Linked DNA regions of Homo sapiens: region 2 is linked to region 1. Evidence: fine-mapped expression QTL. A gene starts in region 1. The other region holds a variant in brackets. All regions are shown on one strand. Distances are between the middles of the regions. Region 1 holds the start of CCND2-AS1 (CCND2 antisense RNA 1). Region 2 overlaps CCND2-AS1 (CCND2 antisense RNA 1).

Region 1 (8,328 bases):
CCCTCCCGGGCCATTTCCTAGAAAGCTGCATCGGTGTGGCCACGCTCAGCGCAGACACCTCGGGCGGCTTGTCAGCAGATGCAGGGGCGAGGAAGCGGGTTTTTCCTGCGTGGCCGCTGGCCGCGGGGGAACCGCTGGGAGCCCTGCCCCCGGCCTGCGGCGGCCCTAGACGCTGCACCGCGTCGCCCCACGGCGCCCGAAGAGCCCCCAGAAACACGATGGTTTCTGCTCGAGGATCACATTCTATCCCTCCAGAGAAGCACCCCCCTTCCTTCCTAATACCCACCTCTCCCTCCCTCTTCTTCCTCTGCACACACTCTGCAGGGGGGGGCAGAAGGGACGTTGTTCTGGTCCCTTTAATCGGGGCTTTCGAAACAGCTTCGAAGTTATCAGGAACACAGACTTCAGGGACATGACCTTTATCTCTGGGTATGCGAGGTTGCTATTTTCTAAAATCACCCCCTCCCTTATTTTTCACTTAAGGGACCTATTTCTAAATTGTCTGAGGTCACCCCATCTTCAGATAATCTACCCTACATTCCTGGATCTTAAATACAAGGGCAGGAGGATTAGGATCCGTTTTGAAGAAGCCAAAGTTGGAGGGTCGTATTTTGGCGTGCTACACCTACAGAATGAGTGAAATTAGAGGGCAGAAATAGGAGTCGGTAGTTTTTTGTGGGTTGCCCTGTCCGGGGCCCCTGGCATGCAGGGCTGGATGGAGGGAGAGGGGTGGGGGGTGGCGGGGGACCGCGTTTGAAGTTGGGTCGGGCCAGCTGCTGTTCTCCTTAATAACGAGAGGGGAAAAGGAGGGAGGGAGGGAGAGATTGAAAGGAGGAGGGGAGGACCGGGAGGGGAGGAAAGGGGAGGAGGAACCAGAGCGGGGAGCGCGGGGAGAGGGAGGAGAGCTAACTGCCCAGCCAGCTTGCGTCACCGCTTCAGAGCGGAGAAGAGCGAGCAGGGGAGAGCGAGACCAGTTTTAAGGGGAGGACCGGTGCGAGTGAGGCAGCCCCGAGGCTCTGCTCGCCCACCACCCAATCCTCGCCTCCCTTCTGCTCCACCTTCTCTCTCTGCCCTCACCTCTCCCCCGAAAACCCCCTATTTAGCCAAAGGAAGGAGGTCAGGGGAACGCTCTCCCCTCCCCTTCCAAAAAACAAAAACAGAAAAACCTTTTTCCAGGCCGGGGAAAGCAGGAGGGAGAGGGGCCGCCGGGCTGGCCATGGAGCTGCTGTGCCACGAGGTGGACCCGGTCCGCAGGGCCGTGCGGGACCGCAACCTGCTCCGAGACGACCGCGTCCTGCAGAACCTGCTCACCATCGAGGAGCGCTACCTTCCGCAGTGCTCCTACTTCAAGTGCGTGCAGAAGGACATCCAACCCTACATGCGCAGAATGGTGGCCACCTGGATGCTGGAGGTAGGTCGGGGGGTGGCGCTCGCCAGGAGCCAGGACCCCTCCGGATGCTCGGGTCCCCGGCCGGAGCCCTAAACCTGGGAGAGGGCAATCCCCGCGCCGGCCTCCCGGCTCCTGTGCGGGAGTTTACCGCGCGCCTTCTGGCGAGACGCGTGGCTTTATTTCTGTTCCTCTCCAGATAAACTGGGGAGGCAGAGGGGGGAGGAAAATCTGGGAGAAGCGAGGCTGTCCTGGGCGGGGGTAGGGGAGCATCCCGCGCGCGTGTTCCTGCATGTGGCTGCCTCTTCTTCCCACCCCCCTCGCGACCTGTCTTTTGCGAAGCCGCCGCGGCTGCTTGCGCTGCGGCCAGGAAGAGAGTCGGGGCCTGAAATCGGGACCCCGAGTAGAAAGGCAACCCCCCCCAAAAGGCCAGAGCAAATTCGTCTTGGCCTCAGGTCCCCGCCTGTGGTCGCGACTCCGCGCTGGCACTTCACCGGGGAGGTGGAGGGAGGAGGGAGAAGGAGAGAAACGGGGAATTCGGGAGCCCCGGAAGTCCCATTGAAGAAACGCGTGTTTCAGGGGAACCCAAAAGAACCGCTTCTTGCCCCTCACTCCAAGTCTTTGCCCAGCGAGCCGTGTGCCCACGTATGCACAGCTCTGGACCTGCCGTGGTTTCGCCATGTTGCTTTGCAAACTCCCTTTGGAAAGGCTGGGAAACGTCGCCCGCTTACCCTCGCACCCCATTATCCCGGCCACCCCACTTCTAATCGTGCCCTCTCCCCCACCCCCCACCTCACGAAGATTACTTACAGTTTGGTTTTCCAGCTTCCTCGGTGCGGAGATTTGGGTGGGGTAGGAAGGGGGGGAGGGGGTGTGTGTAGGGGGGATACCGGGTCACCCCTGAAGGAGAGGTGGGAGCCCCCCGTGCCTCTTTCCAGGGCTCTCTGCTCCCGTCTTTCCCCTCGCTCGTCACCGCGTTCCCTAGTTTCTGTCCTTGTGGGCCGCAGCCGGACACTCCCGCCGCGGCGCTCACCCCTTCAAGTTTCCTCCCGGGATCCAAAGCCCCAGGGGTCGGAATACAGACCTTTCTGGCACCCGAAACCTCTGTTTCGGGAAGCCTGGCTCTTCTTTGGGGTTTTCACGCCAAAAGGGCTTTTCTAGGATATTTCCTCGATTTTTAATTATTTTTTGAAACCATCCCCCCCTGCTCCGACTCCAGCTGCCGAGGCTGCGGCGCTCTTCCTCCTCTCCTCCCTCCCCCTCTCTTCCCCACCTCTCCTCACCCGCCCCCCCAAAAGCGGCCCCTGGGCCGCAGGGACCCCCCCAGACATTTTTTCCAATTGTCGGGAATGATAGAGGAGGATCTGGGGATCCGGATGAGACCAAGAAGTGGACCCCCGGAGCCTCCAGAATATTTTTATTGATTTTTTGAAAAGATGACGAAATCCAAAAAAGAGTGAGTGAGTTAGAGTGCGCGAAGGAGTAGCCAAAGGGAGCGTCGCGGAGCTGCCGCGGCTGCTGCGCACTTCTCCGACTCCCCGTTTTGGAGCTGTAGTTCACCCCCTTTTATAGGATCCCTGGGAATACCAAAGCACTGATGGGCTATTCTGATTCACTCCAGTTTCCTCATCTTTGTTCTTTATTCTTATCACGCATTCTGGTCCCCTCCCCCTCCCACAAAAAAAAATTAATTTTTTTTGTTTCGATAGATTACGCTTTTTTATTCTTTTTCTCTTTTGCTGATGCTATGCTCTCCACCCCCGCCCCCCAACCCTTTCCCACTCCCATTATAGGTCTGTGAGGAACAGAAGTGCGAAGAAGAGGTCTTCCCTCTGGCCATGAATTACCTGGACCGTTTCTTGGCTGGGGTCCCGACTCCGAAGTCCCATCTGCAACTCCTGGGTGCTGTCTGCATGTTCCTGGCCTCCAAACTCAAAGAGACCAGCCCGCTGACCGCGGAGAAGCTGTGCATTTACACCGACAACTCCATCAAGCCTCAGGAGCTGCTGGTAATGACCGGCCCCTTCCTCCCTTCCTTTCTGCGATTCCCGCTTTCCCCTGGCCAACAATATGCCTTCTATCACCACTGCCAGAGCAAATTCTTGGGATCCAGAATGACCCCACCAATAGAATTTACCCACTTATGGGCGATAGCTCATTTAATAGGAAACCACTGTTTATTTTTTGTGTGTTCCTACTATGTGCCCAGGCTCCGTGCCCAGCACTGAGGCTACATCTGTGAATAAGATCCTCATGGAGATTTGGGTTGGTGAGACTCATTTGCAATTGTGTATGCATGTGTGTAGGGGACGCATGGAATATTTTAATTAACAGTGATAATATTTTAATTAAATTCCAAATTTCCAAAAATAGTCTGAGAACGTGTTCACATGATAGGTATGTGGCTGTGGTGTCTCCTAAAAACTTGGAGTTCAAAGGTAATGCCCTCTATATCTACAAAGTCTCAAGATACCAACACATAATAGCTGTTCACTAAATATCAGTTCATTGACTTTTGAGCAAAGTCAAAATGTGGCCTTTCACTGAAGGAGTCCGAGGCCTGGGTTCCTACCTCCAGTGGGACTGTGACCTCTGTACAACCCCAGGGATCCTGTCTTATCTCTGCTTTTCTACCAGGGAACCTTTTTCCCACCTGATCTAACTCCTTTTCCCTGCAGCTTGACATATAAGACGACCATATTGCAGCTGTACCGCATGGAATAGCGGCTCCAAGGCCCACCTTCGGTGGTTTGCACACCCCTCTTTGCACTGTTCAGAAAAGCACCCCCTCCTTCCCGCCCCTCCCCCTCCTCACTGGTAGGGCCCGCACAAAGTCCACAGGGCTGAGGCTGGCTTCTTGAACTGAGCTCTTTGTGAGGAGCCTTCCTTTCTGGGGCTCTGCTGCCATCTAGTGGAAGACATGCACAAGGTTGGGGGAGGAATTGCCGAGAATGTGGAGAGGGGCCTGAATGACTTCACCTTTGAACCGCTGCCAGGTTTTAGCTGCTTCTGGTTTGGTCCGAGAGGCCTAGAAAGGTGCTTTCTTCTGGGAGATCTGCTTCCTTTAATAACGGTGCAAGACCAGTGGTTCGTACTCGCATTACCCTGTGAAGAGGAAGGGCTGGCATTTCAAGCCATCTTTGAAGATGATGGTGGTTTAGTAGTTTATTGGGGTGCTTTACCCCGGCTGTACACAGAAAGCCAAGGCAGATTTTAAAGCTTATGAAGAAAACATTGTTAGAATTGGGAACCAATTTGTTTTTCTCATGAGAGAGCAGGAAAAATCATCTTCATATGGTTCATTTGTTTCGAGAGGATGGTGAATTGAGATGTTCTTCAGGACACCCAAATCTTTCCAGGACTAGCCAAGCAATATATTGCTACAAACAAACTTGGCTTTTTCCTATTCCCTTTATCCCAGAAGTTGGGATTTGGAAGAGTCCTATTTTACAAATGAGAAGGCTGAGGCCTGGGAGGGAAAGGGAATCACCCCCAGCCCCACAGCTGTGGGACTGGTGCTCTGGTTGCTGGTTTAGCAAATGAAAGAGATTCCAGGTTCTCCAGGTGAATGGGAGAGAGGGTGCATTGGCAAACAGGCCCTGCCTCTCATTCTTCTGATGACAGCTCAGTGGATAGGCATATTTTCTGGTAGCACATACGATATTTTTAATGTTTTATTTTGGACCGTTTCCCTTTGAGCACAGTTTCCCGTAAGTATCTCAGTGAAAGAGGGAAACAAGGTTCTTTTTCAGGTGGGTTGCTGGTGAGAGACCCAAGAGACAGGGTTGTGTGGTCCCCACACTTGCACTGAGGGATGCTGTGACACTGAGCAGGCACCCTCACCTTGCCCCAGATCACCTCCATCTGCAAAATGAGGTTGCTAATGACCATGTGGTCCTTTAGTCATGATGACAATGGCCTGTGAAACATTTAGGGGAAAGGGCTGAGTGTCACATCCCCAGAATTTCTGCCTGATATGTAAAAGGGGAGTTTGAGCAGCAGAGAGATAAAGGCACTTTTTGGCACTAAGTAAAAGCAAGCTAATTGGTTGCCAAGGAGTTGGGCCAAGGAACCTTATTTTGAGCTTTATCTGTGTGCATCATTTTTCCATGAAGATTAAAAAGACTATTAATTCGGTGATAGAGACATATACAATAAATTACCATGAAAGGGCCACAATGACCTTGGCCGTATCTCATTGTAGGTTCAGCTTTCTGGGTGGGCGGGAAGCAGTATTGCCTGCAAGTCAGGGTTGGGAGGGGGTAAGGGGAGCTGGAGTGGAAACGAAGTAGAAGAAAATAGAATCTTGGCAACAGCTACCTGGGCTCTCATTATTTTCAGTGGAGCCTGACATTTGAAGCATAAGAAGAGCTGTCAACAACTTCAAAGCTTCAGGGGCACATTGACAAATGGGCCCGCCTTACAATCTAGCAGCCACGTCCTAATGAGCGGCCTTAAAACTGGTCTGGAGCCCAACCCCCAGCCCCCTACACCAGGTCAGCCTGTGGAATTTAGATTCTCCTCTTCTCTTCCTGCCTTCCCCTCCAGGAGTGGGAACTGGTGGTGCTGGGGAAGTTGAAGTGGAACCTGGCAGCTGTCACTCCTCATGACTTCATTGAGCACATCTTGCGCAAGCTGCCCCAGCAGCGGGAGAAGCTGTCTCTGATCCGCAAGCATGCTCAGACCTTCATTGCTCTGTGTGCCACCGGTAAGATGAGGCTTGAGCCGGGGAGGGAGATGGGGGAGCTCTTTTGGGAGATGTCCGGGGAGAGGCAAAAGGCCGTAGGAACTTTCATTTTAGTTCAGGAGTTTGGAGGAGGGGTGGTCTTGAGTAGTCTAAAGTCTGAAGTTTCATTCCTGGGTTGCTTTTTCTTTATCTGAGCTTTATATATTCGCTTTCTCTGCTAAACTCATAAATGGTTTATGAGGACAGGTGTGGTTAAGGCAAAAAAAATTAGTGCCTGTTAAAATATTCTTTATGATGGCTAAAGTGCTCTTTGAAGATTACATATACTGCTCACTGGTTGTGTTCAAATCTTTAATCTTTTAAGGAAAAGGATGGCTTGGAGATAAGCCCAAGAGGAAATCTCGAGGGGGATGGGGGCAAATACAGGTTAAAGGAACAACGTCAAGATAAATATGCTGCCTGCCTTGATTAGTGGTAAGGGAGACCAAAGAAATTCTTTTTTTTTTTTTTTTACTGTAGGGCATTTATGGCCTTCTAGCTGTTTGCTTCTCTAGCTGTTTGCCCCACTGGGCGCGGGAGGGAACCTGGTTGGCTTTCGGTGAGGCTTTACTTTCTGAGCGCTGGGTTCTGATGCCCTCAGTTCATGTGGAGGTGTTTTGATTTTGGCCGCAGCCTTTAACGTTGCAATTCCGCCTACCACGTGGATCCCACAATTGATACATCATTCCTACTGGCCCATTTGTTTTGTAGTTTCCTAATAAACCAAAGGCAGTGGTTTGCTGTTGTCTTATTAAACAGCCTTGGCCAGTGTCTACTGGTTTTTTGTTTTTTTTTTTCTTGGTAGTGGCCATGGCAGAGACCCTGGAACCTTACTCATCCAAGGGAGAGATGTCAGGAGTTCATGTTTTGACAATCAGAAACCTTAGGTAAAAAGCTGATCACTTGGGAAGACCTTTCGGTGTGCTTCACCTCAAATTTGCCAAGAGTAGTTAAATCGCTAGGTGGACTCACGTGGTAACTTTTTTCAGGATGTTGTTACATGTTACTGGTGAGTTCTACGGAACGGATGATTATATAACGTACGATGTAGTGCATATGCCCTGTGCTCACAGTCAAAAAGTCAGGCTTTGCTGCATATCAGTGAGTGACCTTTAATTGGCTGCTTAACCTCTCTGAACCCGAGCTTCTTCATCTCCAAAACAAGCCTATTGATACATCATCCTACAGCCTTTTCAGAGCAGCTAGGAAAATTAAAATCAGAAAGAGGTGATGCACGTGGACGTGCTTTGTAAACCGAAGTGTAGGTTGGACCTTCACTAATTGTGAAAATGCTACCATCTCCGATTTTCACCCTGATTTTAACTGTTCCGACTAAAGTGGATATGATGGCTTTCCTTTTCTGGCTGCCCTTACGTGTTTCTAGCAGGACCTGTGTGTTCTGCACTTGCAGGCTTGAGTGTGGAGTCCTCCCGGCCCCCTGCCTGTTCATCTAGGGCACAGGTTTCCCCTTGCTGGTTTTCTGTAGTCCTGTTCTCCTGGATGCAGGCCAGGCCTCATGGCGTGCACATGCGCCCTGTGCCCCTTGGTGGGAGAGTCCGTTATCCTTCCTGCAGCCCTGGGGGCGGTTCTTAGGACCCCTGTGGACCCCTGCTGCCTTTTGGATAGTGGTCACTCTGGCTTCCTTCCCTTCTGCTGTCTGGCCCGGGCCCGAGAGGTCAGTCCTCCAGTGACCTGTCATTTTGTCTCCCAGGCTCGGCTGTCTCCTTCCTCTCTCATCATGATTCACTGTGGGGGAGGGGTCAGCCAGTTCTTTCTCTCTGGCCCAAGGACAGCTGACCCCCGACCCTAAACTCCCCCACTGCCCAGCTGTTGATAGCCAGAGCTCTGCTCAACACTGTCTCTTGACTAACAGATCTTTTGGGGTCTAACTGCCCCTTCCTCCTCTCTGATCTCTGATTGGGGTAGGGGTGCTGGGTGGAGTTACCGGGGTGTGGGCAGATCCCCAGATTCCGTCTAGACCCATTCTCGAAAACCGGGGATCCCATCCCCCACCCGTGGCCTTCTTGCCCAGATCTTTGGGCTGGCTGCCAGCTCCGGGGCCAGAGTAGGGAGCCTGGGATTCAGAGACTGAGGACAGAGGCCCAGAGGGATACAGAGGCAGTTATAAAGACTGTGTTTTGGGGGCCTTGAACTAGCTTTGGTCAGGGACTAGGAAAGGACACCCCCAAACCACATGAAAATGGTGTGCTAGGCA
Region 2 (8,328 bases), 23 kb before region 1:
TAAAAAACCAACCTAGAAATGTCTTTGAACAGTCAGTAAAAGCCCACATCTTTTGAACAACTACTGTATACAGACACTGGCCGGGAGCTACGGGAGATATAAGGGAGTAAAAAAGACTCTGACTTCTTTTGGTTGAGACACAAACCAGGGACAAATCACAGATTTTGATGGCTGGGGTTCCAATATTGTGTTTGAGTCCCAGCTCATCCTGTAGCCACTGAGCACTTAGGCCCCCATTTCCTTCTCTGTAATATGGTGATAAAAACAACATCAACTCATGGGGTTCTTGGGAGAATTAAATGGATAACCCCATAAAGCAGTTACAGCGGTAGGTGGCACATGGTAAGTGTTCAATAAATGTTGTCTGATCATCTGAGAAATGTACTCATGCAAGAAGCCGCTAACACCAGGAGATGCCACACCAGCGAGGTCACATGATACCTAATAGCCAAGGCCAAACGAATAGTAGAGAGGGTATATTTGCTGCAGGAGAATAGGGTATGAGTGTTCTTGGGGGCACCAGGACCAACTGGGCCAGCTTCCAGAGTGTCTGAGACTTCTGTCACCCAAATGACTGGTTTGAGCCACAGCCCACCCAGGGATGAATGTGGAGCAGCCTGGACCTCAGCACACTTGGGGTTTCTGTCCCCCAAAAAGAACTTGGAGTCTTACGGGTGTGGGGGATGGCTGGTCAGGAAGGGATTCGCAGAGTGGAGTCACTGGCGCCAGGGACTCAAAGATGGACAGGATTCCCAAAGGTCAGGGGCAGAGATAATAAAGAGGCCAGCCTAAGGGCAGCCCGTCTACTCTTTCTAGAGGCCCCCTTGATGGTCACCTCTTCCAGGGTTGAACATTATGCACTGTTGGGAACGGATTCCTCTCTCTCCCTGAAATTCCCCAGCTGCTGCTCAAACAGAAACCTACTTTTGCTTGCCTGGCTCTTGGTGGAGCTGTTACCTACATCCCCTCTCCTAAAGAGCAGCCCTTCTCAGAGCTGAGGGCTGAGGTCCCATCAGCCCTTCCCTCGGGCTTTCTCCTCTCCCGAGGACCATGTTCTGCTGGCCTCCTGGAAGCCATGACTCGCCTTTGTGCACGGCCCAGCACAGAGAAGCCAACCCTCGAGGGGACTTTGAGGTCTCCCCTGGCAGGGACCCAGGCTTGTGGCTGCTGTGTAGTTGCTGTCTCCACCGCCTCCACCTTCCAGAGCTGTAGGGGACACAGCTGCCACTGGCACCCCTTCCCAGTTCAGCTCAGAGACTTTATTCTCAGGACCCTGGCATTCCACTCTGGGCCATCGCGGGGGATTTCAAGTGAAAAACAAAACAGAACAAAAACTGAGGAATGTCTTCCTCGGTGAAACAGAAGCCCAGCTCTGTCACTTACTAGCTGGGTGACCTGGGGAAAATTACATGACTTTTCTGTGCTTTGGTTTCCCAATGTATTAAACAAGGATAATAGTAATTTCTATTGCGCCTGTTTGGAGGAGTGAGTGAGTTGATATAAAGGATGCGTTTAAAACAGTGCCTTTTACAGCATTAGGGAACTATTGGCATGTTGTTCTTTTATAGTGGTTAAGGGTGCAGGGTACTGAATCAGGCAGACGGTGGAGACATCAATTCACCTCTCTGAGCTTCAGTTTCTTCATTTTCTTAAAATGAGGGTAATGACAGTACCTACCCGTTAGACTGTGGGAGGACCAAATGAGGTGATGCACGCTGGTGGTTTTATGTGAATGATTTAGCGCAGTCCTTGGCATGTAGTGAACCAGAAAAAGGCTTACACCTTTAAAAGAAAGAAAGAAAGAAAGAAAAATCTTGAAAGAACAAAGGAAGGAAGGGAGAGAGAGAGAGACCAAGAGAGGGAGGAGAGGAGGGAGGGAGAAAGAAAGAAGGAGAGAAAGGGAGGGAGGGAGGAAGAAAGAGAGAAAGAGAGAGACAGAGAAAGAGAGAAAATAAAAGATAGAAGGAAAGAGAGAAAGGAAGGGAGGGAGGGAGGGAGGGAGGGAGGAAAGAAGGAAGGAAGAAAGGAAGGAAGGAATGAAGGAAGGAAGGAGAAAGGGAAGGAAGACAGGGAGGGAGGAAGAAAACCCTGGCTGAAAAAATAATGACCAAACTCATTAGAGATCTAAGACAGGCAACCCAGCCTCCAAAATGCAGCTGGCTACAACAGCGCCTCCAGTCTGCAGCCTCCTCCAGAGTGGTCTCCACGCTGGGTTATCCTCATGCCCTCTTACTGTTCCTGGTCTGGGGTCTTGCACATCATAGCCACTGAAGTAAACAAGTGTCAGATGAACAGCATGTTTAAACATGTCTACTCAGCCCCCAGGAAAACAGGGGAGGAAAAAGAATCCTTTTAGAATGTTACTCTACTTGTTCAACACACAGGGTTCTACCATCCAAGAGGTGGCTGTGTGAGGGTGGCAGAGATGGCATGAACCAGCCACCGGGCTGTTGAGGGTAGTAGTGAGTGCCCAGGCTTTGGCTTTTGAGAGACTGTGGTTCATGTCTTGATTCTGCCCATTTCTGGCTGCAGGATTTGGGCAAGTTTCTTAATCTTTCTAAGCCTCAGTTTCCCTCATCATAAAATGGAAATTGTAAAACTTACCTCATTAAGGAGTTGTGAGAATTAAACGAATTATTTGTAAGATACAGACAGTGCCTGGTAGAGGTAAGTGCTTCATATATTTGGGCTGTTGTTGTCAACCCTGGATTTCCCAAAAACCTGAAGACAGCAGGGCATTCTGTACATTAAGTTTTAGGGAAAATCTTGTACCTTCTTAGTTTTTCTGGTTGTGGGGCAGGAGAAAAGGGGTGTGGTCATGACCTGAGCCCCTGGAGTGCTTCTGCCCAGCATCAATGACATGTGCCCACCCTGCTTTGGGGTCATTTTGCTCCTTTGGCTGCAACTGTCATTCCCCTCACCATCAACACCCCCTCCTTCTGCAGAGACGGTGAACACGCTGGCATTGTTCCTTCCAGCCAATGGCTTCTCTCTGGCCTGTGATTGGTACCCCCCAGATTCCAGTGCAATCCAGGCATCCCAGCTATGTCAGCGTGACTCAAATTGTGTGTGCCTGACATCCACATGGCCCCGTAGAAGGCTGGCTCCAGCAAGAGGGCATTTGGAACGCTGCTGAATGCTTGATGGCTGCCAAGTTATCTTTTTGGGGTTAGGCCATTAAAGTTGCATCTGATGTTTTATGGAACAAACCAAGATAAACTGCATGTTGAAATCCATGAGACATGAAGAAGATTTTTACAGATGAAGACACAACGGCAGCTAAAGTTAGGTGGGTTTTTTCCCCCTCAAAACTTTGTAGTTTTTCTTCCACACGGCTATTTCAAAGCAGAAGCAATCCTCAAAAGTGAAGCATAGACGCTGCCATAGTAACAGGTTCAGCGAGACCTGGAGCTGCTGGGGCACCTGGAAAGAACATGGATCTGTCTCTCCGCTCTCATCATCCCAACCAGAGTCGTCTGCTCCATTCCTAAATTCTCTACTCAACTTTCCTCACGTACCCTGACGAAACGTCCTTTTCTGTGCAAACCTAAATTTGTCCTGGTGCTTTTTAATGCATCTCCCAGCCCTCTCTATTCTCATGCTACTTGCAAGCGACCAAGGAGCCAGTCACTCCACCCAATTCCTGGCCCTCTGGGCACACTGTGCACCTTCCGACTTTTGTTCCTGGGCTTTGTCACCTTTGTCCAGAGCACCCTTCCTTTCCACTTCTGCCCACTGTTCATCCAAGCAAATGGTCCAAGAAGAGTCCACTCAAATAACAGGCATACTGCCAGGCAACGATACGATAAGAAAGATTAGCAGACCAAGTATCAGAGCCTTTTAACCCTTGAACCCAGGACTCAAGCACACCTCCTCCAGGCAGCCTTCTCAGTCATCCCCTCGACTGAACCCCTCAGTCTCCCTCTTTTTGCACTCCCTTAACCTTCAATTGACCCCCGTCTCCCTAAGTAAAAGCTGTGTGTGTGTCTGCTTCCCTCCAGACTGTAAGGCTGTTGAAGATGGAGACCTCAAGATGCTCATTCTCTTTCTTGGACCACTTAATTGATAGAATCAGGACTTCAAGCTCTTTCTCCTTCCACTGGCACTTGAATGCATAAAGAAGCAAGTGCGACGATGCTGATGGCACATTATGTATACAAGCAAACAACTGGTGAAGGAGGGCCCCCAAATGCCATTAATTATGGGAAGTCGTAAAATTCTGGCATATCCTTGCTATTGAAAAGCATTCTGCACTTAAAATGAATGAAGTAGATGTATATGTACTGGCATAGCAAGACTCCAAGAGATGATTATTCACTGAAAAAAATCAAGTCACAGAACAATATGTTTGGCATGATCCTATTTAGGTTTTTAAACTGTTAAGTTCCAAAAAGAAAACCATCAGGATCTCTCTGATGTGA[C/T]TGAGGAAACGATGAGTTATCTGAAAATGTTGGGAAAGTGAGAAATCATAAAAAATGAATCATACATACCATACACATTTTATTTAAAGTTAATGTACATTTATTTACCAATCTCTTGGTAGCAGTCCAAAGCTTTTTGAGTCTGGGTCTGTTGATTAGAGCTGTATACCATTTTACTGAGTATGTAAGCCATACTCAGAATGCATTGTCTAAGACTTCTAATTTCATTTTCTTTAAAGTGGGATGACAAAAAGTTATGGATACAGTAATTTGAGCACAGGATCCTAAATTATGCTATGTAGAGGCTGTGTGATCTACATAAGTTAAATATCATTGTTGAGCATAAATTTCCAATCTGCAACACAGGGCATTAATAATATACCCACAGGTAACTGATAGGAAGAATGATGATCCGGTGTGTACAATCCCTGGTGCTCAATAAGGATGAACTAGTCTATTAACTATTTTACTTTCCGCTCATTATAGGACAGTAAAAAGACAAAGCAGCAGCAGGCCATCATCCTACCTGGGACTCTGGCCACCTCCTCTTTCTGCCTTAAAGATGCTCAAAGTCTGGGCCGGGCACGGTGATTCACCGCTGTAATCCCAGCACTTTGGGAGGCTGAGGTGGGCGGATCACCCGAAGTGAGAACTTTGAGACCAGCCTGGCCAACATGGTGAAACCCCAGTCTCTACTAAAAATACAAAAATTAGCTGGCGTGGTGGTGCATGCCTGTAGTCTCAGGTACTTGGGAGGCTGAGGCAGGAGAACACTTGAACGCAGGAGGTGGAGGTTGCAATGAGCCAAGATTGCACCATTGCAACCTAGCCTGGGCGACAGAGCGAGACTCCTCCATCTCAAAAAAAAAAATGCTGAAAATCCATAGATACCAGGGTGAAATTAGTATCCAATATGAAGTGTGAATGGACGAGAACCTGCTATATGCCAGATCTGTACTAGGTGGAATGGCAGCATACTGCTCAGTAAGTTCATTTTAGTTCATTTTTGTTCCAAAGGACATTATGATCTAATGACAAAGGTTTGATATACATGGGAAGATGATAGTAATAATAATATACAGTATCAATGAGGATATCGAGGATATTTTCAGTTACAGATGATTTAAAAAACTAACAAATTAGCTTAAGTACCAATTTATTTTTTGAAACAGGGCTTCGTATGTTGCCTAGGCTGGAGTGCAGTGGCTACTCATAGGTATGATCATAGTGCACTATATCTTCAAACTCCTGGCCTTAAGCAATCCTTCTGCCTCAGCCTCCTGAGTAGTTGGGACTACAGGTGCGTGCCACCCCACCTGACTTAAAAGTATGCATTTTTTTTGGCCGGCCGCGGTGGCTCACGCCTATGATCCCAGCACTTTGGGAGGCCGAGGCGGGCGGATCACAAGGTCAGGAAATCAAGACCATCCTGCTAACATGGTGAAACCCCGTCTCTACTAAAAAATACAAAAAATTAGCCGGGCGTCGTGACGGGCGCCTGTAGTCCCAGCTACTCGGGAGGCTGAGGCAGGAGAATGGCATGAACCCAGGAGGTGGAGCTTGCAGTGAGCCGAGATCACGCCACCGCACTCCAGCCTGGCCACAGAGCGAGACTCCGTCTCAAAAAAAAAAAAAAAAGTATGCATTTTTATTTATTTTTTTAGAGACAAGATCTCACTATGTTGCTCAGGCTGGACTCAAACTCCTGAGCTCAAGTGATCCTCCCACCTCAGCCTCTTCAGTAGCTGGGACTACAGGCAACTATATGCATGCACAACCGTGCTTGGCTCCCCAAATTTTTAATTGGCTCAAGCAACGAAAATTCCAAAGGTCAATGGGACTTCAGGAGATAGCCGATCAAGCCTCTGGTTCTAGTTCCTTTGCTCTTCTCAGTTCTTTCTTACTACATGTGTCAGCTTTGTCCTCAAGTTGACTTCCCTCTAGTTAAAAAAAAAAAAAAAAAAAAAAACCTTGGCAATTCCAATTCCAAGCTTCATACCTGAGGCCACGTCATCTGCATCCTGCAAGCCACTCTAAACTAGTCAAGTGCATGTACCCAACTCTGACTCAATCACTCTGCAAGATGGATGGGATTATGTTGATCATCCTGGGCCAATCAGGGATTACCCCAAGATCTGGTGAAGGAGTCAATTTAATGTGTGCTTCTTTCATGTGTCAGGCATTGTGCTACTTGCCTTTACATGGATTATCACATTTATCCTCGTAACAACCCTATGAAGTAAGTGCTACTAGCAGTTCCTGATTATAGTTGAAGAAACTGAGGCCCAGAGAGGTTAAGTAACTTTTCTGTGGTTGCACAGCCAATAAGTGGTAGAGCCAGGATTCATACTTTGGCCCTCTGTCTCCAGACCCCACATTCATAACCACTAGACCACAAAGTCTGCCAAGGGGCAAGTCCCAAGGTGATGGCTGATGTGCAGTGCAAACATCACTCTCTGGGTAAATTGGGAGGGAGGAGCACTTGGCCTGGTGTGATGATGACAGGTTAGGGCTTGAGCTAGGTCTTAAGCAAGGGTGGGAAAGTAAGATCAAGTGAACTTTCAGAGATGGGAATCATGTAGCAGAAATAACAAACACAGTGGGATCAGACAGACTGTCAAGTTTGCTGCTAATAGCTGAGTGAACTTCATCAAATTATTCACTTCTCTGAGCTCATAAGTGAAATAAGAAGCCATGAGAGTGAATCAAAGGCCCACGGGAAAATCTAAAGTGAGAAGTAGGCTGAGAATAGGATCCTGGAAACCCTGAACAGGACCAGTAAAAGTCAAGCCAAGTCCTATGGGAAAATAGAAAGTCCCTTGGAAGGGTACACATACAAAGGATTCGCTATAGTGACAAATCTAGAGAAAGTATTCTAATCTTCCTTACAATTTCCTGCCAGCCCAGGAAACAAGAAAGAGGAAGATAAAGATGAAGCCTCAGGCATTATAAGACTATACTAATAAAGATAGCTTTTTACAATCATCCAATTCCGGAGCTGGATAGGACAACAGACAACCTGCTTATTGTATAGATAAGAAAGGAGACACATTTTGAACACTTATATGAAGAGGCATATAGGCAAAGTGCCTGGCACAGTGCCTCATAAACAGTAGGTACTCAATAGTGTAAAATATTATTGGTGAATAATAGTTATTATTTTCATAAGGGACTTATCCAAGGCCTCGAAAGTTGATTAGTGACCAAAAAAGATAAGAATCCATGTCTTTTAATGTCTAGTGCAGTTTCTTCATCACTCTGAGCTTTTTTCTCTGATGAAAGGTGCCAGATGCCACTGAAAGAAGGGAGAAGAAATAGCAACCTAAAGTAGGAAAAACTATCAAAGAAGGAAAATGTTGGAATAAACACTGAACAAGTAGTTTGAAAACCAAGATTATGAATCTTGGTCTGCCATTAACTGGCTCAATGACTTAACCAGCTCAGGCCCCAGTTTACTCATCTATAAAAGTAGAGATTTGAATAAGATCATCTTGGTTTCCTTCCAACTCTGAAATTCTATGAAAGTAGGTTCCTCTCTTAACATTGCAGTAGCCTTCTTTATAAAAGATATAAATACATTCTAGGAAAAAAATGTATAGGGACAAGGCCACATAAAAAACTGAAAGTAAGAAAAGGCATGAGAGTTGGCTTCAAATATCTGGAAAAGCTTCTAGTCATATATGTGTCAGGTATATGTTGTGTGAGGCTCCAGATAACAGGAATAAGATCCAGGAGTAAAAGCAACACAGAGGCAAGTTTCTGTCCAATACAGAACAGATTTTTTTCCGTGTATTTTGGAGCTCTGCTATTAGGTGCATATATGTTCATAATTGTTAGGTCTTCAGATGGACTGACCCTTTTATCATTATAAAACATTCTTTTTATCTCTAGTAACAATTTGTGTCTT

Evidence for each region. PIP is the estimated chance that this variant, and not a neighbour inherited with it, causes the effect.
Region 2: its variant is the best candidate, but not a certain one, in a credible set for the expression of CCND2-AS1 in prefrontal cortex (GTEx, PIP 0.65).

The regions. Positions count from the first base shown.
Region 1 is chr12:4,272,825-4,281,152 of GRCh38, forward strand. It overlaps CCND2-AS1 (CCND2 antisense RNA 1), which reads right to left and starts at 3,360. Exons shown (of 2, transcript NR_125790.1): 1 at 3,235-3,360. It overlaps CCND2 (cyclin D2), which reads left to right and starts at 938. Exons shown (of 5, transcript NM_001759.4): 1 at 938-1,411; 2 at 3,181-3,396; 3 at 5,936-6,095. The coding sequence starts at 1,217. RefSeq lists silencers at 129-248, 779-868, 6,007-6,199 and an enhancer at 7,381-8,328.
Region 2 is chr12:4,249,763-4,258,090 of GRCh38, forward strand. The region is part of intron 1 of CCND2-AS1 (CCND2 antisense RNA 1); the gene reads right to left. Among named protein-coding and RNA genes, the nearest start is that of CCND2, 20 kb to the right of the region's middle. The variant C/T (reference allele first, on the strand shown) is at 4,422.